2 separate regions of the Homo sapiens genome follow, and region 1 is linked to region 2. The links come from fine-mapping of genetic effects on plasma protein levels. A gene starts in region 2. The other region holds a variant in brackets. All regions are shown on one strand. Distances are from middle to middle.

Region 1 (11,846 bases), 19 kb after region 2:
TAGCCCCATTAAAATGATCAATGCTTTGTCTGTCTCCACAGCCCTGACTTTGGATTCAACTAATGTAAGGTCTTACTATGCATTAGCCACTCTCCTAGGCCCTGGAGTTATGGGACAGTGGAAAATATTCTGGTGGGATGGATGGTAAATGTTCAGAAATCAAGCATGACCTTTAACTTCAGTGCACTCTAGATAAAAGCTTTTCTTCTTTGATGTGGAATGGTGACCCATCTGAAAGGTAAGTTAAAGCTCCTTCCCTAGACAGGAAGGACTTTTTAGCCTCCCTCACACCTTCCCTTAACACAATACAGCAGAGACAAGGAGCAGACAGACAATGTATTGCTGAGAAATATAGAGTGTATTTCTAGTGGCATCTGTCCCACCTGCACATTTATGGAAATGACAATACTGGTCCTCTGGAGGGCTGCAGCAGTTGGGGAGCCTATAAACTCTTTTTCATGGCTCTGCATGTTCTCCTTGAGCGGACCAATGTTTCTATCTGAGGTGAGGGTCAGGAGCTAGGTTGGGTGCCCTGGTTTGTTGGCACAAGCCTCTCGAGGACAGTGACGAGGGCAGTGGCGGGGGTAGCCCAGGGCTGAGGCAGAGCCAGGTTGTCTGGAGTGTAGCCGGAGCTTATCGTCTAGGGATTGGGGACCATCCAAGAAGGCTGGGCCCACCAGCTTCTGAGCAGGACGAGATTGGGCCTTGGAGCACCCTGTCGGCTTCTCCGTCTTACTTCTCCCCACAGGGCTCTTGGCTGGAGCCAGGCTCTTTGCAACATTTTCTTTTCTGGTTTTGGCCACCTTCGCAGCGGCTGAGAACATGGAGTCCTCATGCCCTTTGCCTTTTGTCTTGGGGTTAATATGCTGCAGAAAACATTTAATTTTATTTCTGAAGCTAGACTCTGTAAGGCTGGGCTTCTTTTGAGCATGGACTGGCATCACCAGCCCATGCAAAACTTGGCCTTGCAAAGTTTGGCCCTGCAAAGGCTTAGCCTGAGTTGGTTGGCTCAGGAAAGGCTGACCCTGTGAAGCCTGGGGCAACACAGTCTGGGCATTCTCAGGAATTGTCGCTGGTTCAAGGATGACAGTTAGCTTGGTTTGACTGTCTTGCAGGTCCTTCTCAGACTCTTTCTCCCCAGGGACTCGTGGAGGTAGCTGTGGGAGCTTAAGCTGAGGGTGATGCTGGGGGCTGTGTTGACAGGGATCAGCAAGATGAAAGCTACGGCTCCATCGCCAGGACCCTCGGGGTGTCTTGTTTGGAAGCATCCCTGCTGGCCTCTGGTCTTCAGCAGGGCGTCTCTCTTCTCTGGTTGAGGAGCGCCCAAACCCCGCATCCCCTTCTCTGTGGTCCCTGGCTGCTTTGGTTTCCTCTGGGTCCTCTCTGTTTCCTGCTAGCATGGGGACATGGGCTGGGTCCTTGCTCTTGCTAGGGCTTTGAGGCTCAGGGCCACAGGGTTCCTCCAGGCTGGGTTTGTTCACATTGGCCTCTACCTGAACACAAGGCATGTGGGCCTCTGTCATGTCCCCACTGGGCTGTGAGATCTTGGAGACCGAGTGGGCAGAACCCTGGGGTACAGCTTTGGAATTGGATTGCTTTTGGTTCTGCTGCACTGCCTTCAAGTCATTGGCCAGCTGTTCTTTAAGGTGAACCCCTTCTGGATTAGGGGCAGGAAGAGTGTCTGGTGGGATGGGCAGTTCCTGGAGCAATGTCTCCCCTTGGTGGTTTAGACTTTCAAGAGACTTCTGTGTGGATATGTTCTCTGGTGCTGCAACAGTTTGTTCCCTGGACTTCCTTGCCCTAATGGGAATTCCCCATTGTATCTCTAGGACCTTTTTTCTCAGGTGGAAGTTTAGTTTGGTCAAGATATGTGTCTGGAGTGAGTGGGGGCTAGTAGGATGCGTCTGGCTTTCTAGAGGCAGCGTCTCCATTGTTCCTTTTACTGGCACTGCAGGCTGGAACTCTTTTGCAACGTCTGTACAACTCTCATTGTTGCCTTGAGGGCATGGCCCAAGACTTATACACTGTTCTTCAAATGAAACCATCTGAATCAGAGGCTCTGCTGGGATTTCCACGGGACTAGGCTCCATCTCTGTGATGACAGATTGGCTAGTGACTGCCGGGGCCAGGGCCCTGGGGAGCGCCACATAATACAGAGCAGGCAGCCCCGACAGGAAGGCCAGATGCTTGTGCCGTAAAGTTGTCTCCAGTTTCTCAATGGCTTCCACAGACAAGACTCGGAGCAGCTTAGGGTGTTCAGTGACAGTACCTGGTAAAGCCTGTTGCTGCTGATCAAGGGCCGTTGGCATCCAGGGCATAACTTTGTGATGCAGGTCCGGGTCACTTGCTGTCTGCAGTTCCAGGAACTGGCTTTCTGGAATGCAGGGAAAAGGAGCCACTGCCAGGACCCCAGAAATTCTGCAGTCCCAGGACCTGTGTACACAGGCGGGGATCTTGCCCTGGTGGATTTGTCCACATTTGGAGTCGATGTGGCTCTGCAGTATTGCCTTGACCTGAGTTAACAAGTGTGGCCTGGGGATGGACACTGGGGCCGCAATGGGTGACAGCACATCGCAAGCCCCGTTGGCCTCTAGGGCTACAGGCTGGGGGATGCTCACGTTGGCTAGGGCTGTGCTGCTGCTGGACACAGTCTGCTGATCAGTGGAGGTAAGGAGCAACTGGATGGACTGCTGGATCTTCTGAGGCAGGCCCCAGCGATGGCGAATCAACTGTTTCTGGATGTGGAATTCCAGCAGCTTCCGGGCATGCTCCGGGAAGAAGAGTAGTTCCCTGGTGAGCACTGAGATGGACTTCCCTGTCTGGGAAGCTGTCGTGGTCTCAGGAGACTGAGCTTTGCCACAGGGCTCATGCTGCATGAGGCACTGGGTGTGCTGAGACCTCTGGAGGGCAGCTGGCCAGCCCCACTGAAGCTGGAGTTGCCTCTGTAGCAGGTGCCACTCCAAGGCTTCATACTCAGCCAGAGTCAGAAATGGGACATTGATCTGAGCTCGTTGATGGTCAGATGGAGACATCCAGTTTGGGGAAAGTGGGGAAGAGGGTGGGGCTGACTGGGGTGAAGTTTTAGGGAGCAGTTGGGGGAAGGAGAGCTCATTGAAGAGAAAAGGATCCTTCAAGGGGGGCTTGGGCACATTTTCAATCTTGGGGAGGCCTTGAGATCCCATGAAAGTGGCAACCAGGGACTCACTGTGCAGAGAAGGGAGCCCACAGAATAGCTGGCTGTATTTCTGCTGGAGATCACTCCCTGAGTCATTATCTTGTCCCCCAGACTGTGGATGGGGGCCACTTAGGGCTTTAAGGGCTGGAGAGGGCAAGGCTAGAGCCATAGGGTTTGGAGTTTGCTGACAGTGGTGTCTTTGTTCTGGGTTCATTGTGGACCATTCAGAAACCCAGAAGGTCTGGATGGGCTGGCCAGCCACACATGAACACCAGGTCTGGAGGGAAATGGTCTCAAATCTATGAAGAGAGACCTGAGGAGTATTCTTCAGGTTGAAAGAAACTGGCTGGTCATTTCCAGGTTGGTAATACAATGGTGGGTTTGGCATAAGCTGCCTCAGGGACTCCTCCACACGTCTTGGGAGCCCCCACCTCTGGAAATGCATCCATTTTTTAACATGTACCTCAAGAAGCCTCAGCACTTCAGGACTGAGAAATGGCAGGTGGGCAGGGAGGACCATATGCAAGGCCATTGGATGCATCCGGTTCAGGGTTTCTGGGTTCAGGGACAGCAAGGAGACCTGGGAATTCAAGTGATGCTGGCCTTGGTTTCCCTGGACAAGGCTGGGGTTGCTCTGCGTCATCTCCTCCTGGTTCAGTGGAGCCCTTGGCTTCTCAATCCTTGAAGAAGCTATGGTGTTTGGGCCCCGGAGCACATCTGGCACTTGAAATTCCTGCCCTAGCTGGAGGTGATCAGCCCAGTAATCTTGTATGCCATCTGCATACGTTGACTGGGCAGCTGACTGGGTTAAAGATTTCTGATCTGTTAATTGTGACAGTGTTGGGGTTACAGATGACAGTGAAAGCTCTCTGGTGTGCCAGGAATGAAACTCCAGACTCTGATCTAAAGACATACTAGACGTAGACAGCATCTCTAGGCAAGAGGAGCCCTGCAATGGCCCCGATAAAGTCAGGGAGATCTGGTTGTTCTCACCCACCAGCAATTGCTGAATCTCCAGAGCCACAGAATTGCAGATTTGGCAGCAGGGATCTGCACACAGGATTCGCCGCACACTTCTCTCCAGAGGAAGCCAGCCCTGGCTAGGAAGGGAAACACGGCAAAATTAACGATGGAGTGACATCTGCCTTCTTGGAAGAGTGTGGGCTGGAGTGGGCACTCTCCTTTCCCAGTCCTGAAAACCCTGGGGCCTATACCATCTTGTTGTCTACCTGTCTGCTTTCCTTGCTAAGAAAATGCCATTTGGCAAGGTGTGGTGGGCTGGGCTGATGGTCTGGAGCTTGTTGGGCAAGGCCTCAGACAACCCATGGGAGGGCATGGCCCTCAGAGAGGGCTGGGAGTTGGAGTCAGTTCTCTGTTGACCTTGTTGAAAAGCTGAACTAGGAGAATGGAGCTAGGCAGTTAGCTGATGGGGCATCACCAGGAACATCACCAGTTAGAACCCAGACCAGTCTTATTTGAGGCTAAGAAATCCAAAGCCTGTATTCAGTACTTCCAAGCTGTAGAAAATGAGGTCCTTGTGGGACTTCTGCATTCTGGGGTATTTGGTACCCGTAATGTTATACCCAGCATCTCTTCGGAACCAGTCCTGTTCTCTAGAGCTCTTAAGGAGAGGATAATATAATAGACTCCTGTCTAAGGAGTGTCCCAAGTACTGGCCTCACTGAAGACAGAACCGGAGGAGGTCATGTCAGCAGAGTCTAGCCAGAGTCAGGTATTTTCCCTTGAAAGGGTATAGCTTTATTCCCTTGAAAGAGTATAAAGAGAATAAGACAAGGATGACTTCTTTATTCAAAACCCATTCTCTTAACTGGGTAACTTATCTCATGGCTGAGTGCAGCTCCATGTAATATGTTTTATGAATTATACACTAGTAAAATCCTGAATTGTAGAACTGCTGTTACCCTAGCACAGAACTGAACTGGGCAGCTCATCTCTCCTGAGACATGTGAACCCCACTCTTCCCTGGCAACCCTCTCACCCAGTGTCCCTGCTTCCACTGTGTATGTCTCCCTCCCAGCCATTATCTTTCTCCTTAGTCCTGCCCCAGGCCAAGCCAAGAAATCATCATAGGCCAGGCTGGTTGTTGATAGAGTGCAAAGAGCAATAGATCACCTTTTAATGATGGAGAGCAGCTTCTGTGGCTTCTCAGCTTCTTCCCGGGAACGTCTCCTAGCTGAGGAACGGGGAGACAGTGTTATATGGCATGGGATAATTTCATAGGCATCCTATAGGAAGCTGAATAGTAAGGCCTTTGACTCTCATCAAGAAAAGACTACAATCCTGAAAAGTCCGTACTCTAAGGCATGTCTGAGTACAGCATCGCTGTAACACAATGTCCCATATCTAATTTCATTTGATTTTTACAACCACAATGTGATTGAGGCAGGATTGTCAGTGTTTTGCTCATTTTGTGGATAAGAATGAGAGATGAAATGACTTCCACAGGGTCATAAAACTAGTAAGTTATACAATTAAGAACATCTGCTCTACTTTCTTAATTCTTCATTTCCAGGGCATTGAGGTACAGGATTTTGGAACATTCTCAAGTTATGATTTCCCACCCATGGAAATTTCAGTCTGGGGAACTGGAGTCTTCAGTGGCAGAGCACCTGGCTCTTGGCTCCAGAGGTCACAGAGGGACAGGATTCATGGGAAACACCCACAGTGGAAGGGAGTCAGAGGAGAGATTGGGACTTTACCTGTTGATGCTGCATCTCTAGCTCTTTGCCTGACTTTTTGGTGACACTTAGAAGACAAAAACATTAGAATGTGAAGCTGGGACACCATTTTCTTTCTCATGTCCAAAATGAGACAAAACTTACATACATTTTTCACTCGCTTTGTATATATCTATCTGTATTTTATACACTCTCCTGGACTTCCTTTGCCTATTCCACCTTTTTACCCCATTTTCCTTCTCTGCTTATTTTGGATTCACTTGGAGGCTTTTCCAAATTCTATACCTCCCATCTGATTCACAGAGAAGTCCTGCTGGATGCTGAGGATGACACAGGAGGAAAAGCAGAACAGACAAAAGGGTAAATGGTTCTAACAACCAAAGGACTTCTGCTTACAAAGCCCACCAACCGGAAAAATCCCCCATATTCAGAGAGCTTCCGAGATCCAGCAAGATAGACTTCATATTATCTAGTTCTCAATCCAAACCAAATAGAGAGGTTCTTGGCTTTTCAATCAGACTATGTTGCGGGAAGGGCCTGGTAAGGAATTATAGTCTCTGAGAAGAAAAGTATTACACAAAGGTAACTGAAAGTATGCTATAAAAATTCTGGGGTGGGGATTATAAGGGAGCACGGTAAGAACTTATAGGCTTCTTATCTGAGGCTTAATTAGTTCAGTTGGGATCACAGCCCTACCCGGCAGCAGCTCCTTTTAGGTTCTGAACTCAATTCATGGTGGCTCCTTTTCACTTGCCAGATAATTACAATAACGATGAAGATGGAGCCATAGATGTATAAGGGATATCCAACTTCCCACAGAACAAAAGTAGGGCTCAACATGGTCTAAACTTCATTAGCATGAGATCAACCATCCCTCTATCTCGGAATTCAGGGTTCTGGTGCCTAATGAATCCCAGTGCTAGGCCTTGTCATGTCCACCTCACAGAGGACGGAACTAGGCCACCAGACTGCATCACAAAGCCCTCCTGTTTCATAAGGTACATGTAGTAGGGAAGCTCATGTGGTGATTCAGTCTGTAGATGAGGGTGTTTTGAGCCTGGGACTGAAGGTGCCACAAGCAGTGTCTATTTCCTAGTCTGTCTTCACTTTCCACTCCCTATACCAGCCTGATGCCTCGGCTCTCTCCTTCACAACTGTATGGTCACCTGTCCTCAGAAAACTGAGTGCTTTGGCACAGGGGTCACCTCATAAGAAGGGGTAGATAGGCCGGAGGAACCTCCACTAACTCTCCCACTAGTTTTGGTAATATACCTGAGAAACACACATGAATTTAGGGAGGGCGGAGTCTGGTTATGGCTTGGAAATGGAGATCTTTGATGTTTTAGGCAATGGGTGATTGGTAACAGAGGTGCAGGAAGGGGACCATGGCTGATGTGGTAGGGTG[G/A]TAGGGAGAGGCCAAGGTGGTTGTACGTATCTGGTCTGTGTGGCCTCAAGCTTGCAGATGGGTTGGGACTGTAAATGCTACCTTCCATGGAGGCACATTCATGCTCAGGGAGATGAATGCCTGCAGAGATGGGTTAGTGGCCGCTTCTGACTGTGGGTCACAAGTGACTAGTTGCTGTTCATGGTTGGATGTATGCTGTTTGCCTGAGGATGTTTTTTTTGTTTGTTTGTTTATTTTTCTCAAATCTGTATTTTGTAAATTTTTAGGCAGGGCATGTGTTTTCCAATTCAGCTTCAGGACCCATTACTTCCATAGCCAGACTATTGATTTACCTGCCTAGCTTTTGTAGATATTGTGATATGCCACCAACACCTCAGTATTCCTGAATTTCCTTGAGAGAGTTCTGCTCTGGTAATGGTGGTCTCAGGCCAAGAAACCTTTGGGCTGAAAATCTCTGAAGAGGCTTTGGTCCTTCCTCAGTATCCAGCCCACCCAGCAGATGTGGTAAGCACCCAATATGTGCTCAGCCCTAAGCTGGGGAGTGTTGAGGATACAAAGACATTTGAGCCGCATTGGCTTTCTGCTTTCAAGATACTTAAAAATGTAGTTTCAAAGACAAGACTAATTCATACAAAGCAAGAGCCAACAATCACTACAAATAGACTTATATACTCATTCGTAAGGCTCTGGCCACAAACATTCCATTTCAGAGAAGAGAAATCATAGTGAGGATCATGGTCATCAGAGAGGGCTCCTGGGTAGTCGAAGTTAAGTTTAACAGTGCAGGTTGTGGGTAAAAGGACTCTTCCTGGTGGGAGAAAAACTTACCAGCTCATGCTGAATCTAGGGAATGGGCCATGGAGTTCATTTGGCAATAACAAATGCAGTGTATCTCTAGCAGAATATAGAAGGGTGGACTGGAGAGCAATTGTGAGAAAGATTGGAGGATCAGGATAGAGGCCTCTTGATGGAGGGAGGGCCTTTGTATCTATTTTATTTCAATCCCTAAGACTATTTTTTTTAAAGTAAGCATACTTACACATGGCACAAAATTTAAAAGGCAGAAGAGTGTATAGCTGTCTCTCATCCCTGTCTCCTCCTATTTTTCTTCCTCGTGTATCTCTCTTTTAAAAAATGTTTTATTTTTATTTTGTATGGGTACATAGTAGGTGTATATATTTATGGGGTATGTGAGATATTTTGATACAGGCATACAATGCATAATAATCACATCAGGGTAAATGGGGTATCCATCACCTCAAGCATTTATCGCTTCTTTGTGTTACAAACATTCCAATTATACTTCTAGTTATTTGAAAATGTACAATAAATTATTATTGACTGTAACCACCCTGTTGTGCTATCAAATACTAGGTCTTATTTATTCTATCTAATTATATTTTTTGTATACATTAACCATCTGCCCTTCTCCCACCCAAACCCCCACACCTCACCCCGCTACCTTTCCCAGCCTCTGGTAACCATCATTCTATTCTCTATCTCCATGAGTTCAATTGTTTTAATTTTTAGCTCCCACAAATGAGTGAGAACATGCAAAATTATTTTGCCATGCCTGGCTTATTTCACTTAATATAATGTTCTTCAGTTCCATTCATGTTGTTGCAAATGACGGGACCTCATTCTTTTTTTATGGCTGAATAGCACTCCATTGTGTATATGTACCACATTTTCTTTATCCATTCATCTGTTGATGGACATTTAGTTTGCTTCCAAATCTTGGCTATTGTGTAAATATAGGAGTGCAGATATCTCTTCAATATACTGATTTCCTTTCTTTTGGTTATTGGTTGTATACCTAGCAGTGGTATTGCTGGATCATATAGTAGTTGTATTTTTAGGTTTTTTTTTCTTTTTTTGGACAGGTTTTTGCTCTGTTACCCAGGCTGGAGTGCAGTGGCGTGATCATGGCTCACTGGAGCCTCAACCTCCTGGACTCAAGCAATCCTCCTGCCTCAGCCTCCCAGGTAGCTGGGACCACAGACATGCACCACCACACTTAGCTAATTTTTGGATTTTTTTTTTTTTTTTTGTAGAGATGAGGTCTCACTTTATTGCCCGTGTTGGTCTTGAACTCGTAGGCTCAGGTGATCCTCCCACCTCGGCCTCCTAAAGTGTTGGGGTTACAGGCGTGAGCCTATTTTTAGTTTTTTTGGGGAACCTCCATACTGGTCTCCATAGTAGCTGTACTAATTTACATTCCCACCATCAGTGTACAAGGGTTCTCTTTTTCTCCACATCCTTGCCAGCATTCATTGTTACCTGTCTTTTGGATAAAAGCCATTTTAACTGGGGTGAGATGATATCTCAGTGTAGTTTTGATTTGCATTTCTCTGATGATCACTGACATTGAGCACCTTTTCAGAGACCTGTTTGCAATTTGTATATCTTCTTTTGAGAAATGTCTTCTTTTGACAAAAGATCTTTTGTCCATTTTTCAATAGGATTATTAGATTTTTTTTTCTAATGAGTTGTTTGAGCTCCTTATATGTTCTGGTTATCAATCCCTTGTCCAGATGAATAGTTTGTAAATATATTTTCTCCCATTCTGGGGTTGTCTCTTCACTTTGTTGATTGTTTCCTTTGCTGTGCAGAAGCTTTTTAACTTGATGTGAGCCCATTTGTCCACTTTTGCTGCTTTGGCTGTCTGTGCTTATCGGGTATTGCTCCACAAAGAAATCTTTGCCCCTAGATCAATTTCCTGGAGAGTTTCCTCAATACTCCTGTATCTTTCAGAATTAATTTAGCATGGGAAGCATAAATAAATTGATATATTTTCTTCATAAATGGAAACATGCTAGATACTGTTTTCCCTTTTCTTTTAGTTTTAATTATTATGAATATATCTTCTGTATATAATTTTCTTTAATGTTTGTACAGTCTTCTTTGGTAAAACTATAACATGACTTATTTTCAATCCTATATCCGTGGATATTTCTTTAAAGTTTTTTTGTTCTACCAAATAACACTGACATGAACCTCATGTGTATAAGTTCTTGTACACTGGTATGAGTATATAACTAGGAGAAATTCCTAAGAGTTGAATTAATGGGTCAAAAGGTGTGTGTATTTTAAATGTTGATATTGCATAATTGCCTACCAATTGTATGAATTTGCACTCTCACCAAAACTCTGTAAGGGTGCCTCTCTTCCTATGCTTGTTGACTCAATATTATCAAATTTTTGATCTTTGTCGATATGAGAAGTGCAAATTTGTATTTTATATATTTATAAATGTGTTTCAATGTATGATAATCACCTTTTTGCTTCTTTTCTGTGAAATATCTCTTCCTATTCTTAGCTCACAGATTATTGGGCAAAAATCACTTATTGATATGTAAGTGTTTTTTAATATTAAGAAATTATATATGTATCAGAAATACTTTTTCTCAGTTTGTCATTTGATATTTATAATGAGTTTTTGCCACATGTAAATTTTTGGATTTTATGTAGTTGAATTTATTAGTCTTTTATTTTATGGCTTCTGTGGGTCTTTTTTTTTTTTTGAGACGGAGTCTCACTGTGTTGCCATGATGCTGGATTTCAGTGGTGCCATTATGGCTCACTGCAACCTTGATCTCTTGGGCTCAAGCGATCTTCCCACCTCAGCCTCCCTAGTAGCTGGGATCACAGGCATGTGCCACCATACCTGGCTAATTTTTATTTTTATTTTGTAGAGATGGGGGTCTCCTGTGTTGTCCAGGATGGTTTTGAACCCCTAGTCTCATGCAATCCTCCTGCCTCGGCCCTCCAAATTGCTGTGATTACAGGCATGTACTACTGTGCCCGGCCATGGCTTCTGTGTTTTAAGTCACACTTAGAAAGGTTTTTCTCTTCCTGAAGTTATAAAAAAGTTCCAATTCTTCAGGTACTCATGGTTTCATTATTTTTGATAAATGAATGAAGTTAGAACCTGTATTAGTTAAGAATTACACTGAGGTACATCTAACAGAGATTCAACTACAAAATAGGGTTTCTCGGGCTTCTGGATTCCTTAGAAAGGAAAGTTGGAAGTAGCATTACTTTCACTCTTACAACAAAAGAAATCACACATACAAGAAGAAAAGAAATCACAAGACACTGTAAATTCACAACTTTTCTTGAATTTGTCAGCAAGCTGAAGTTCTAGGTCAACTCAATTAACCTTAATCTAAGGAAAGACATCTTGAAGGAGATGTAGCACAGGTGCACTTGCTTATTTGGAGCCGACTCCCCCACTTCCCTCCCATCAAGCTTGTAAGAATCCAGATAAAAGTTTTAATGAATTGCTAAAGGCCAACTGTAGCCCAGCGTGAGAATACAGAAATGCTGGGACTTACAAGTACAGGGAGAATTCACACTCACTTGCAGGGTCCTTTCCACGAACCTTAGTGTGTATTCACAAGAAAGACTGGGGGTAGTGTGAGAGTCCTGAAAAAATATCACTCGTGGTACAGGCCTGGGGAAAAGGAAGAGCAGCTGCTGAGGGGAAAGGCACCAAGCCCTTCCCAGATTCTTCTCCCTTCTCTTCCCTATGGAAACAAAAGCCTTAAGTTGCTAGATGAAGAGC
Region 2 (11,846 bases):
GGGAGGGGTTCTTAAGAAATCTGATTGCTTACTCTTTAAGAGTTTTTTTGTAGGCTACTTTGCCTATGGAGTAACCATTCTTTTATTCCTCTACTTTCTTAATAAACTTGCTTTCACTTAAAAAAAAGTTTCTTGTAATAAAATGTAGAGACAGGGCCTTGCCATGTTGTTCAGTCTGATCTCAAACTCTTGGGCTTAAGCCGTTCTCCTACCTCTGCCTCCCAAAGAGCTGAGATTACAGGTGTGTGCCACCGCACCTGGCCGACTGCTTACTTTGGAATTGGTTTCAGGTTTATAGGACTAACTGAGGCTTGTTTGTTTTTCACTGCAGCCTCGAACTCCTGAGTTCAAGAGATCCTCCCACCTCAGCCTCCCAAAGTGCTGGGATTATAGGCATGAGCCACGGTTCCTGGCCTGAGATCTATTAGCTCTAATTTTTTGTTTTTTAAAGGTGGGGTATTGCTCCACTATGATCAGCTATGGTGTGATCATAGCTCACTGCAGCCTCGAACTCCTAGGCAATCAAGTGATCCTCCCACCTCAGCCTCCAAGTCGCTAGGACAATAGGCCTGTGCCACCGTGCCTGGCTAATTCTTTCTTTTTTTTTTGTAGAGACAGGGGTCTTGCTTCGTTGCCCAGGCTGGTCTCAAACTCCTGGCTTCAAGCCATCTGCCCACCTCAGCCTCCCAAAGTGCTGGGATTATAGGCGTGAGCTGCCATGCCCAGCTAGCTCTAATTCTTTACTAGTCCCACCTATCCTCTATATCTGTATCAAAGAAGCCCTTAAAATATTGACAAGGAAGGAGTGAACCGGGAGAAGCAGGAGGAGATTCTGAGGCAACACTGACAAGTGGGAGTCAGCCCATGATTTCATTAGTGTGTGTGTGTGTGTGTGTATGTTATCATTTTGTGGAAGAGATAGTGGTGAAATTATTTAAAAACATGGTATGGCCAGGCACAGTGGCTCACACCTGTAATCCCAGCACTTTGGGAGGCCAAGGTGGGAGGATCCCTTGAGCTCAGGAGTTTTAAGACCAGCCTGGGCAACATAGTGAGACCTCGTCTCTACAAAAAATGAACAAAATTAGCTGGGTGTGGTGGTGTGTGCCTGTAGTCCTACCTACTCAGGAGGCTGAGGTGGGAGGATTGCTTGAGCCCAGGAGGTTGAGGTTGCAGTGAGCTGAGATTGCGCCACTCACTTCAGCCTGGGTGACAGAGCAAGACCCTATCTCAAAAAAGGAGCAAATAAAAACAACAAAAATACATGGTATTAGTAATTTTCTGGATGACACTGAGGAGGACTCATTGTTAGAACATAGTGATAACTCACTTTTAAAGCAATAAATTGCTTCTGTGGTTCTGTGATAAAGAAAAGTCAGGATTCCAGGGATTAAAATGAGTTTTCATGCTTAAGGAATGAAGATTTTGTAGATTTTAGAGATAATTCATCTTTAGGATTTTTTTTTTTTTACATCTCTAGTAGAAGTCATTGTTTCCCTGTTGGATACTGGCATATGAATATTCAGTAAATATGAATTTTTACTGTATTCACGAATAAGACATTAGAAATCCTTCATATTTATAATTTGATTTTATGCTTTGTATCTATTTTTATTGAAATATTTACGTGTCTCAGCAGTAGGCTTTTGGAAAGTTACCTTTATCTCCTCTCCCATTTGGGCTCTTGGGGGTTTATGCCTTTATTTTATTTTTAAAATTAATTTATTTACTTTGAGACAGGGTCTCTCACTTTTTAGCCCAGGCTATATGGCTCCCAGGCTCAAGTGATCCTCCCACCTCAGCCTCCTGAGTAGCTGGGACCATAGGCACATGCCACTACACCAGCTACTTTTTTTTATTTTTTGTACAGACGAGGTCTCATTGTGTTGCCCAGGTTGGTCTCAAACTCCTGAGCTGAAGTGAGCGTCTTGGCCTCCCAAAGTGTTGGGATTACAGGCGTAAGCCACTGCGCCTGGCCTTGCTTTATGCCTTTACACGCATACATGCACCAAAAAAATTTACTGTAGTTTTAGTCGGGGCTCAGTGAGAAGTGAAAATAAAGGCATGTAATTAATTTTCCATCCCTACCCTGAACTCCGATTTGTTTTTAAATTTAATGGTGTTGATCTTTAATGATTTACGTTTTATGGTTTTATGACTTGTTTAAGAAACTCTTTTTGGCCAAGCAGAGTGGCTCATGGCTGTAATCCCAGCACTTTGGGAGGCTGAGGCGGGTGGAGCGCTTGAGCCCAGGAGTTCAAGACCAGCTTGGGCAATATAGTGAGACCTGGTCTCCATTTTATTTTAAAAAAAAGTTATTTTATACCTCGAAGTTATAACCACATTCACCTATATTTTCTTCTACGTATATCTTAAACATTATGTTTTGAATCCATCTCATATGATGAAGAATTTGAAAGGCAATGTCAAGATAGAGGTATTTTAAAAAGGGAAGGGCATTAGAACCTTTAAGAAAAACAAAAAGATGAGTGACGAAGGAAAAGTGCACTACTTTTGTCTGCAGAGAACATTTATATAGTCAAAATAATGTAATATGTGATAATACATATTATGTAATAGTAATCCACAATAATATAAACTGTAATTATGATCTAAATATGGTAATATAATCATGATCTAAATATTATGGTATGACTATATTTAGAGGATGCAGTGACAGGAGAGGAGAGTTGGCAAGAGAGTTAGATCTTCACTTTTTATAGTAGGAAGTCATCTGGTAATGTTTAAAATAGGTAAATCAAGAAACAGAGGTATAGGCAAAGTACTTAGACATATGGCACTAAGAAATAGCATAGGAGTTAAAGTTGTAGGAAATTATGTTATTCAGAATAAACCTTTTGGTACTTTTGGATATATTTTTTAACTGTGAGTGTGTATTATGTGATATTTTTTGAATTATGCATCAAGAGAATAAGAGAGAAAAGAGAAAGAACAGGACAATGTTGTCAAAGATGAAGGCAGACAAGGAGAGTGGCCAGTCATGATCTGATGGAATAAATAATATATTGCATGCTTACTCAGAGCAGGGCTTGAGGCAAATACCAGGCATGCAGGTGTGGCAGGAGAATTTAGTGAAATAGAGAGTTTTGTTTTTTCTGCCTATGTTTTTCTTTTCACTATAGAGTAGGCAAGAGTTTTGGCAGGGCTGGGAGTGATGTCCTGATGTCAAAGGGAGCCTGACGTCAAAGGCCTTTTGTAAATGTCTTACACCAGGGGAAAATGCCGGGCATAGAGGCTCACACCTGTAATCCCAGCAACTTGGAGCCTGAGGCAGGAGGATCCCTTGAGCCCAGGAGTTTGAGGTTACAGTGAGCTATGATCCTACCTTTGCACTCCAGCCTGGACTACAAAGCAAGCCTTAAAAAAAAAAAAAAGTAAACTTGTAAACTTGGGGAAGAGGTTATGCCCTGGAGGGGCTGAGGAGAGGGAGACAATTGTTTAGGACTGCGAAGGGATTAGTGTGTACATCCAGCCAGAGTGGGCACTGGGCTCTAATTTCTGTCTGTGATGGGGCAAGTGACAGGACTGTTGAGTAGATGGCTTCGGGGGTATCTGGGGAGGTCAAGTCCAAGCCCAGAGGCTGTCATATCTGAATTCTTATGTCTCAAATGTGGAGTCTAGGACTTGAAGAGATATACCTGCTGGAACCACAGGGGTCAGAACACTCACTGGCGAGACTGATGTCCAATGATAGGATGGTGTAGGAGGCAGGTAGGAGGCCTCCCTTGGGCCTTGAGGTTTCTGTGACCTTTGCATAACCCTTGGCAGGTGGGATCCCACAAGAGTGCCTGATGTTGAATTTCTCATCAGCACTCTAGTGCAGTAGCTTGGAGTAGGAATTAAGTTCATTTAAGGAACATTTCAAAAGTAGTATTTCTTGCATATCTGAGTTTATAGATTAATTTCACACCTGCTGCCCTAGGACAGGCAGGGGAGAGGCCCTGTCTTCACCTGCTGCAAGAGGAGCAGACAAGCCAATACTTGAGGATGTTAGGATAGGTGGTAAGTGCTGTGGCATACTCAGGCTCCTACAGAAGGAAAAGTTGATGGAGCAGCCACTTCTAGCTTCTGAGGTTCCTACCTTTCTTCTTCTTCTTCTCCTCCTTTTTTTTTCTTTTCCTGAAATGGAGTCTTGCTCTTGTCGCCCAGACTGGAGTGCAATGGCACAATCGATCTCACCTCACTGCAACCTCCGCCTCCTGGGTTCAAGTGATTCTCCTTCCTCAGCCTCCCGAGTAGCTGGGATTACAGGCGCCCGCCACAATGCCCGGCTAATTTTTGTATTTTTAGTAGAGACGGGGTTTCACCATGTTGGCCAGGCTGGTCAGGAACTCCTGACCTCATGATCCGCCTGCCTTGGCCTCCCAAAGTGCTGGGATTACAGGCCTGAGCCACCGCGCCCGGCCTTGAGGTTCCTACCTTTCTTGCCCTTCCCCAGGATCTGTTCCCTTCTTTCTCACATTGTCTGGCCCAATCTGATGGCTTCTACTCTCCCCGCCTGGAGGTGATTTGGGGAATAGAAGGGTCTTCACTCTGGGGAGGAAGAGGTAGAGGAGAGCCATCTGAGGCCTTCCAGGAGAGGAGACTGATTCACACCTGAATCCTGGGGTTCTGAAAACCTGCCCCAGGAGACTTATTCCTTGACTTCAAAGGGTTAAATGGGCTAAAGTAGTCTGGATCCCAGCCAGGAAAGAAAGGAGGAAAAAAAAAGGGAGGAGGTTTTTCCATCTGGAAGGAGGCTGAGTGAGTCCAGGGGCCCAGATAGGAATAGAAGGAGAGCACAACAGCCCCATTAAACAAAGAGGAGAGGTCAAGGCCCGAGCTTCACTGAATAGGGCTGAAGCAAGTCCCCTCGGGTCTTTGCCTCCCAGGGGCTCTCTCAGGGCTGGAACTGTGCTAGGGCAGGTTTCAATATAACTTGTGTTTGTCTGTGTTATAGATGGGCCCAAGCCACAGCTTCCCTCCTAGGGACCCTTCCAAAGAACCACTTGGAGGGTCTCATTGAATAGTTCCCAGGGAAAAGAGAGGAAGCCTCTGGGATATCTGGGGAAAGGTCTGAAGGTCATGGAAAAGATCCGAAGGTCACCCCTGGAGTTAGTGCAGGACAGAATCAGGGTCTCAGAGGTCTGCAGAGCTGTTGGGGGTGTGTGCTCCATGTCCACCACCTCTCCATTGGCAGGATGCCTCAGAAGACTGGGTCCTACCCTGTCCTTCAGCCTCCCTTTAACTGCTCAGGGGTGCAGGCACCTGAGAGGCAAGGAAACTCTTGGGGTAGATGAGAACATAGCATTTTTCAGCCTGAGCTTTCGGCTCAGAGTGTGTGACCCCACCCTGTAGGAACCTTGGCATCTCGGTGGACATAAACACATGGGAACAGGTACTTGGGTGGGAAGACAGAACAGCTTTTTATTCAGTTAGGTATAAATCATATTTACAAGGAAGAGGTGGGGTGTACTGGGGAGCCGTATCAGGTCCAGGGTCCTGATGATTCTCCTTCAAGGGGACAGTCCTGCTGCCTCCTCTCATGCTCCCTGGGAGACTCTCCCTCCTCGGTCTCTCTGGACCTGGCCTGCTGTGGGCAGCTCAGCCATGCAGGGTAGAGCTGGGAATGCAGATGGGGTGGTTAAAGCAGGAGAAAGAGTGTGGCAAGGCCAGCATGGGGTGGCTGCTCCAGGGCCCCTGAGCATAGCCTCCTTCTTGCATCTTGGGTTCAGGCTTCAAGCGCTGGTGAGGCTGGTGGGGTCTCCAGGGCTCCAGGCTGCTCACTGGGCTATGGCCCTTTAGGGGTCTGTGACCGCTCAGTCCTGTGAGGGCAGAAGAGGGGTGTGAGGGGCTGACTGAGGCTCCCCTTTACCCACATCCCTCAGATTCCTCACCTCTTGCAGCCTTTGGAGCCCTTTCCTTTCTTGCCAGTCTTGGAGGCCCCCCTGTCCTTCCTGCAGCCCTGGGCTGGTTTCTGTGGGGATGGTGTCTTGTCCAGATGCTGCATCAGCTGCTGCACCCAGAGCTCCTTTGGGTCTGCACATAGCTCTGCCTGAGAGCGCTTGCGGGGCAAGAACCTGCGGGTGGGGGCTAGTAAGCCTTCTTAGTCTTGCCCACCATGCCCTCCCCACCCCGTCACCAGCCAGTACCCACCCCTTTGTGTCCACTCACAGGATAGCTGGGATGGAGCAGCCTAAGCTTGGTTCCTGCTTCCGGTAGCTGCGGACAACCTTGGCGGGAATCTTCCTTTGGCTGTACTTGAGGCAACAGTCCTGAGCCCCTCCATCACTGCCTGCAGGGTGGGATTCACAGGGAGCCAGGGGCTGCTGGCAAGCTCCTATCCAGGCCTCTTGATCCCCTTAGCCCCATGCAAGGCCCCTCCCTGCCTTGGTACCTTGGGTCCTGGGGATGCCAAAGGCCAGAACCAGGATAAGGAGGCTCAGAGCCAGTGACTGAGCCATGTCTGTGGTAGAGGGTGAGTAAGAGGCCAGAGCTGAGGGTGAGGTGGGCAGCTGCAAGTTGGGGGTCTGTGCGTGGGCTGGGATTGGCCTGCTATTTATGTAGCTAGACACTTTCACTTCCCTTAACTTATCCCCACTCCTTTTCCTTCCTGAAAGCTGGATTTGCTGGCACCCAGCCCCACTTATCTCAAACTAAGTGGACAGTCCTCAGCTGCCAAATTTTATGTCCTCATTAGTTGAATATGTCTGGGCCTGAGCCTTCCTTCTATTCCCAGCTACTGCTTTCATGCAGGCCTCACTGCCTCTCCCCTGGAACACCATGACTGTCTCCTCACTACGCTCCAGGATCCATACCCTTCCCCTCCTTCCAGCAAATCTGATTATTAAATTGTAAGAGTTCTTTTTTTTTTTTTTTTTTTTGAGACAGGGTCTAACTCTGTCACCCAGGCTGGAGTGCAGTGGTTGATCTTGGCTCACTGAAATCTCCGCCTCCTGGGCTCGAGTGATCCTCCTACCTCAACCTCCCCAGGAGCTGGGACTACAGGCAAGCACCACTGCGCCTGGCTGATTTTTCTATTTTTTTTTTGTAGAGACGAGGTTTCACGATGTCTAGCCCAGGCTAGTCTTGAGCTCCTGGGCTCAAATGATCTGCCTGCCTCAGCCTCTTGAGGAGCTGGGACCACAGGCACATGCCACTACGTCCGGCTACTGTTTTCATTTTTCATTTTTATTTTTTCTAGAGATGAGGTCTTGCTATGTTGCCCAGTCTGGTCTTGAACTCCTGGGCTCAAGCGATCCTCCTGCCTTGGCCACCCAAAGTGCTGGAATTATAGGTATGAGCGACTGCACCTGGTCTGTAGCATAACCATTTTGATTCCCCTTTGCTTTCCTTTTCTATATATTTTGTAGTTATTTTCCTAATGGATACCTTGGTGATTATAATTAACATTCTAAACTGATAACAACCTAGTTTGAATAATACCAACTTAGTTTCAATGGTATATAAACATTTTGCTCGTATACATTTTAGTCCCTTCTTTATATTGTTATTGTCACAGATTACATCTTTATACATTGTGTTCCCATTGACATAGATTTATAATTATTGTTTAATGCATTTTCCTTTTAAATTATATAGAAAAAAGTGGGGCTACAAACTAAAAATACAATACTAGCTTTTATCTTTTTTTTTTTTTTTGACACAGGGTCTCGCTTTGTCACCCAGGCTGGAGTGCGGTGGCACAATCTCAGCTCACAGCAGCCTCGACCTCCTGGGCTCAAGTGATCCTTCCACCTCAGTCTCCTGAGTAGTGGGGCCACCATGCCTGGCTAATTTTTGTATTTTTTGTAGACACGAGGTCTCACTATGTTGCCCAGGCTAGTCTCGAACGCCTGACCTCAAGCAATTCACCCGCCTTGGCCTCCCAAAGTAATGGGATTACAAGTGTGAACCAGCATACCTGGCAATGTTGTTACTTTTTTTTTTTTTTTTTTGAGACAGAGTCTCACTCTTTCGCCCAGGCTGGAGTGCAGTGGCGTGATCTTGGCTCACTGCAACCTCCACCCTCCGGGTTCAAGCCATTCTCCTGCCTCAGCCTCCCGAGTAACTGGGATTATGGGCACCTGTCACCACATCCAGCTAATTTTTCTATTTTTTGTAGAGATGGGGTTTCACCATGTTGGCCTGGTTGGTCTCAAACTCCTGACCTCAAATGATCCGCTCACCTTGGCCTCCCAAAGTGCTGGGATTACAGACATGAGCCACTGCGCCCAGCCTGCTATGTTGTTATGTTTATCAGAGATCTTTGTTTCTTTGTGTGGCTGTGAGTTATTATTTTTTGTCCTTTTGTTTCATTCTGAAGGTCTTCCTTTAGCATTTGTTTGTTTGTTTGTTTGTTTTTTCTTTCTCCCGTTAGCTTTTCTTGTGGGCAGGTCTACTATTAATGAACTTCCTAAGTTTTGTTTATCTGGAAATGTCTTATTTCTCCTTAATTCTTGCAGCATAGTTTTGCTGGATATATAGAATTCTTGTTTGACTTTTTTTTTTCTTCAGTCTTTAAATATATCCCCCATTGTCTTTTGGCCTCCCATGGTTTCTGAAATCAGCTGGTAATCTTATTGAGAATCTCTTGTACATAATGAGTTACTTCTCTCTTGCTGCTTTTAAAATCTTTGGGTTTCAACAATTTGACTATAATTTGTCTTGGTGTGGATCTCTGAGTTTATCCTTCTTAGAGTTTGTGAACTTCTTGGGTATGTATATTCATGCTTTTCATCAGATTTCAGATGTTTTGTCATTATTTCTTCAATTTTTTTAATGCCCTGTTCCCTCTCTTCTCCTCCTGAGACTCCTGTGATGAGGTACATTTGATGGTATCCCTGAGGCTCGTTTATTTTTCTTCTCATACTTGATAATTTTAATTGTCTTATCATCAAGAATACTGATCCTTTTTTTTCTGCTTAAATTAGTTGTTGATTGCCCCTAGTGAATTGTACATTTCAGTTATTGTATTTTTGCTTCCAGAATTTCTGCTTGAGTCCTTTTTTTCTTTTTACTAATTTCCATCTCTTTATTGATAGTTTCATTTTGTTCATACACCATTTTTCAGATTTCCCTTAACTCTTTGCCCATGGTTTCCTTCAGCTCTTTGAGCATATTTAAGACAGTTATTTTTTTTTTCCAAAAGGGCCATTGTTTCCCAATTTAATTTGAGGTCATAATAAAACAAGCAACAAAGCAGTATTTGAGATTTCAGCTTCTCACCCTTATCATCAAACCTCCCATCATCAATATTTATTGAGCATTTACAGTAAGACAGTTAAAGTCTTCATCTACTATGTCCAATATCTGGGCTTCCTCAGGGATAGTCTCTGTCAAATTCCTTTCTTCCTGTGAATGGGCCATACTTTCCTATTTCTTTGTATTAGTAATTTTTTGTTGATAACTGGGCATTCTGAATATTACAGTGTGGTATCTCTAGAAATTCAATTTTTTCACTCCTTAGGGATTGCTGATATACACTTGTTGAGAACTCTGCCATCAATTTGTGGTGACTTTTTCAAACGGTTTTTTGCAAAGTGTGTATTCTTTGTTTTGTGGGGTTACTGAAATTTCTGTTTATGACCTGACAAAGGGTTCTCTTCCTTCCCCGCAAAAAGATTCTGTCCCTTTAAATCTTCTGATATATGTGGCTCAGGAAGATCCTGAAGCCCAAGAGGGCTGAAACAAAGCAAGCCTGTCCCTTAGGGAACCAGAAGACAAACCCAAATGCAAAACCCCTCATTTTTGGAGGACAGGGTTCCCCCTGCCCACTCAGTGACCACCCAGCTACTTCAGGAATGTGGGCTGCTATCCCCACTGTGTTGGTTGGTAGCTAGTGCATGCATTATGCTCTCTTCTGAAAGACCAGCAACCTCTCCCTTCATCAAGTACCACCCCCCCTGCTTGTTATAAGTGTCCAATCGGGCTCCAGACTTCTGAAAGAGTCGATTCCAATTGCTCTTTCCACCTCAATAGTTGCTTTGGTGGAGGGACCAACCCCTATAACTTCTTACTCTGCCATTTTGTATGATGTTTTTCTGTAGTTTAATTTTTAACATTTTAAAATCTTTTATCCATTTGGAGTTTATTATGGTATATGATGTGTGAGGGTTATTGGGTCATAACTTAGAATCTATATTTAATACTGGATTGGGACCTTAGAGTTGTAATCCTCACGTCAGAGCTGGAGAATCCATCTGGTTTCCAGAGTGCTAAACTCAGCAGCAAGCTCCTTACATCTTGTTTTTTGAAGGATGGCTTATGACAGGATAGGGAAACCATAGGAAGAGGAGGAAATGAGTGTCAGGAGAGATGTAGTCAGGACAGCCATGGCCAGAGACAGAAATATTGGGTTGCTCTTGGGGAAGGATGGGATGCAGAAGGCATGGGGTTGAAGATGGAGGTACTGTTGGGAGGGGGATAAAGAGGTGGTGTTTCATTCTAAGGTCCACAGAGTAGAGGGGCTGGAATTTGGTGGCCTAGAGGAGAAATAATTGAGCTCTTGAGTCTGAGGTTTTCAGACTCAAGAGACCTTAAGGCTGAGACCTTAAGCAGGGCAGGGAGTGACTCTGTTGGCAAGAAGCTGGTGTTCCTGGAACAAGACTAGGCAAAAACAAGGAGATAAGATTTCTTGGATCTTTTACCTGGTCTAGAGGCAGATCCTGGAACCAGAAAGTTTTAAATTCCCAGCTCCCTGGTTTCCCCACCTGCCTAATGGGAGTGACTAAGAAAGTAGTGAGCAGCCTGTCTCTGAGGAATTCTCAGACAGATAGAATAGCATGGGCTTGGGAGGGGGCATGCAGATAATTCCGAAGTCATATTATATTAGTTTGCTTCCAAACTTGGCTGCACTTCAGAATCACCTGGGTGACTTTTTAAAAACAGAATTAGAAGCAACACGCCAGACCGCCTTAAATAGAATCTCAGAATAGAGCCAACAAATGTGTATTTTTACCAAGTTCTGCAGGTAATTCTAAGCATTTGGTGGGGTGGGGCTGGGAGAGCCACTTGGGCCTATTCTGCTCCCCATCCCACACTCTAGATTGACACAGAGCCGGTGAAAGGGAACAAAGTTGGTCTGGGGAAAGGAAAGCTGGAGTGATGCCCCCTCTACCTCCCCTGGAGGAGGAGACTTTCTCGCCTGGCACAGATTGTAGAAAAAAAGGAGAGATGGCAGGGAAGAGGAGGGGGCTGTACCTTTTTCTTTCCTAAAAGCTTAGGCTTGCTTTCTCTCCAAGATACCTGCCTGTCTCCCTTACCCTTATTCATGCCATGAAAGAAGCTTCTTGTTGTGTCAGATGGTGTGCACAACCCCCTAGGTCCCATCTCTGCCTGGTCTTCCTAGATGCAGGAATCTAGGTTGATTAGGCATCAACCCTAAGCCCCTGCCTGTGAACTTGAGCCTGCAGTGGTAGAGCAGTCTCAGGGAGATGTTACATCCTGGAGATATTGAGGTCTGTCTGCTTGGTGCTGGAGCTTAGAATCAAGGTTAGGAGCCCTAAGGGAAATGAAGGAAGCAGTAGGGGCTTTTCTGGAGGTGGAAACCTGGCTGGACAAAATCCAGCGCAGAAAACAGCTGCCCTGAGAGTGAGGATGGGATAGCGAGTCCCTACCCCGTCTCCAGTCTGTGAGTGGACCTGGTGGCAGGGGTGGTGAGAGGGAGGCACTGAAGCAGGGTAGAAGAGAGTGAGGAGCTCGGATGATGAGAGAGCCATTACCCTTTTCTGGGACCCCAAGTCTTCTGAGCCATTCCTCTGCCCTCAGCTGCTGGCCTGGGTTTATTGTACCCCACAGCCCCACTTGAACTGTAAGCTGGGTTTGGGGATTTGGAGCCTGCAGCT

Direction of the effects. Positions count from the first base shown, and alleles are read on the strand shown. Strength reflects both the effect of a copy and how common the allele is.
With allele G in place of A in region 1, the plasma level of the protein whose gene starts at base 6,534 in region 2 is lower (weak association).

What was found. A credible set is the group of variants that fine-mapping cannot tell apart. PIP is the chance, under the fine-mapping model, that this variant and not a neighbour inherited with it causes the effect. Protein levels are from antibody-based Olink assays in UK Biobank. Linkage for the fine-mapping came from a reference panel and not from the study's own genotypes, which makes the PIPs less certain.
Region 1: its variant is the best candidate, but not a certain one, in a credible set for the plasma level of the CCL21 protein (UK Biobank, PIP 0.83).

The regions. Positions count from the first base shown.
Region 1 is chr9:34,722,714-34,734,559 of GRCh38, forward strand. SPATA31F1 (SPATA31 subfamily F member 1) reads right to left here and starts at 6,775. Exons shown (of 4, transcript NM_001141917.2): 1 at 6,571-6,775; 2 at 5,896-5,941; 3 at 5,309-5,369; 4 at 340-4,275. The coding sequence starts at 6,714. The coding sequence ends at 519. It also overlaps a transcript of PHF24 not described here. The variant G/A (reference allele first, on the strand shown) is at 7,280.
Region 2 is chr9:34,703,603-34,715,448 of GRCh38, forward strand. It overlaps CCL21 (C-C motif chemokine ligand 21), which reads right to left and starts at 6,534. Exons shown (of 4, transcript NM_002989.4): 1 at 6,398-6,534; 2 at 6,175-6,295; 3 at 5,898-6,080; 4 at 5,403-5,825. The coding sequence starts at 6,464. The coding sequence ends at 5,792. It also overlaps a transcript of PHF24 not described here.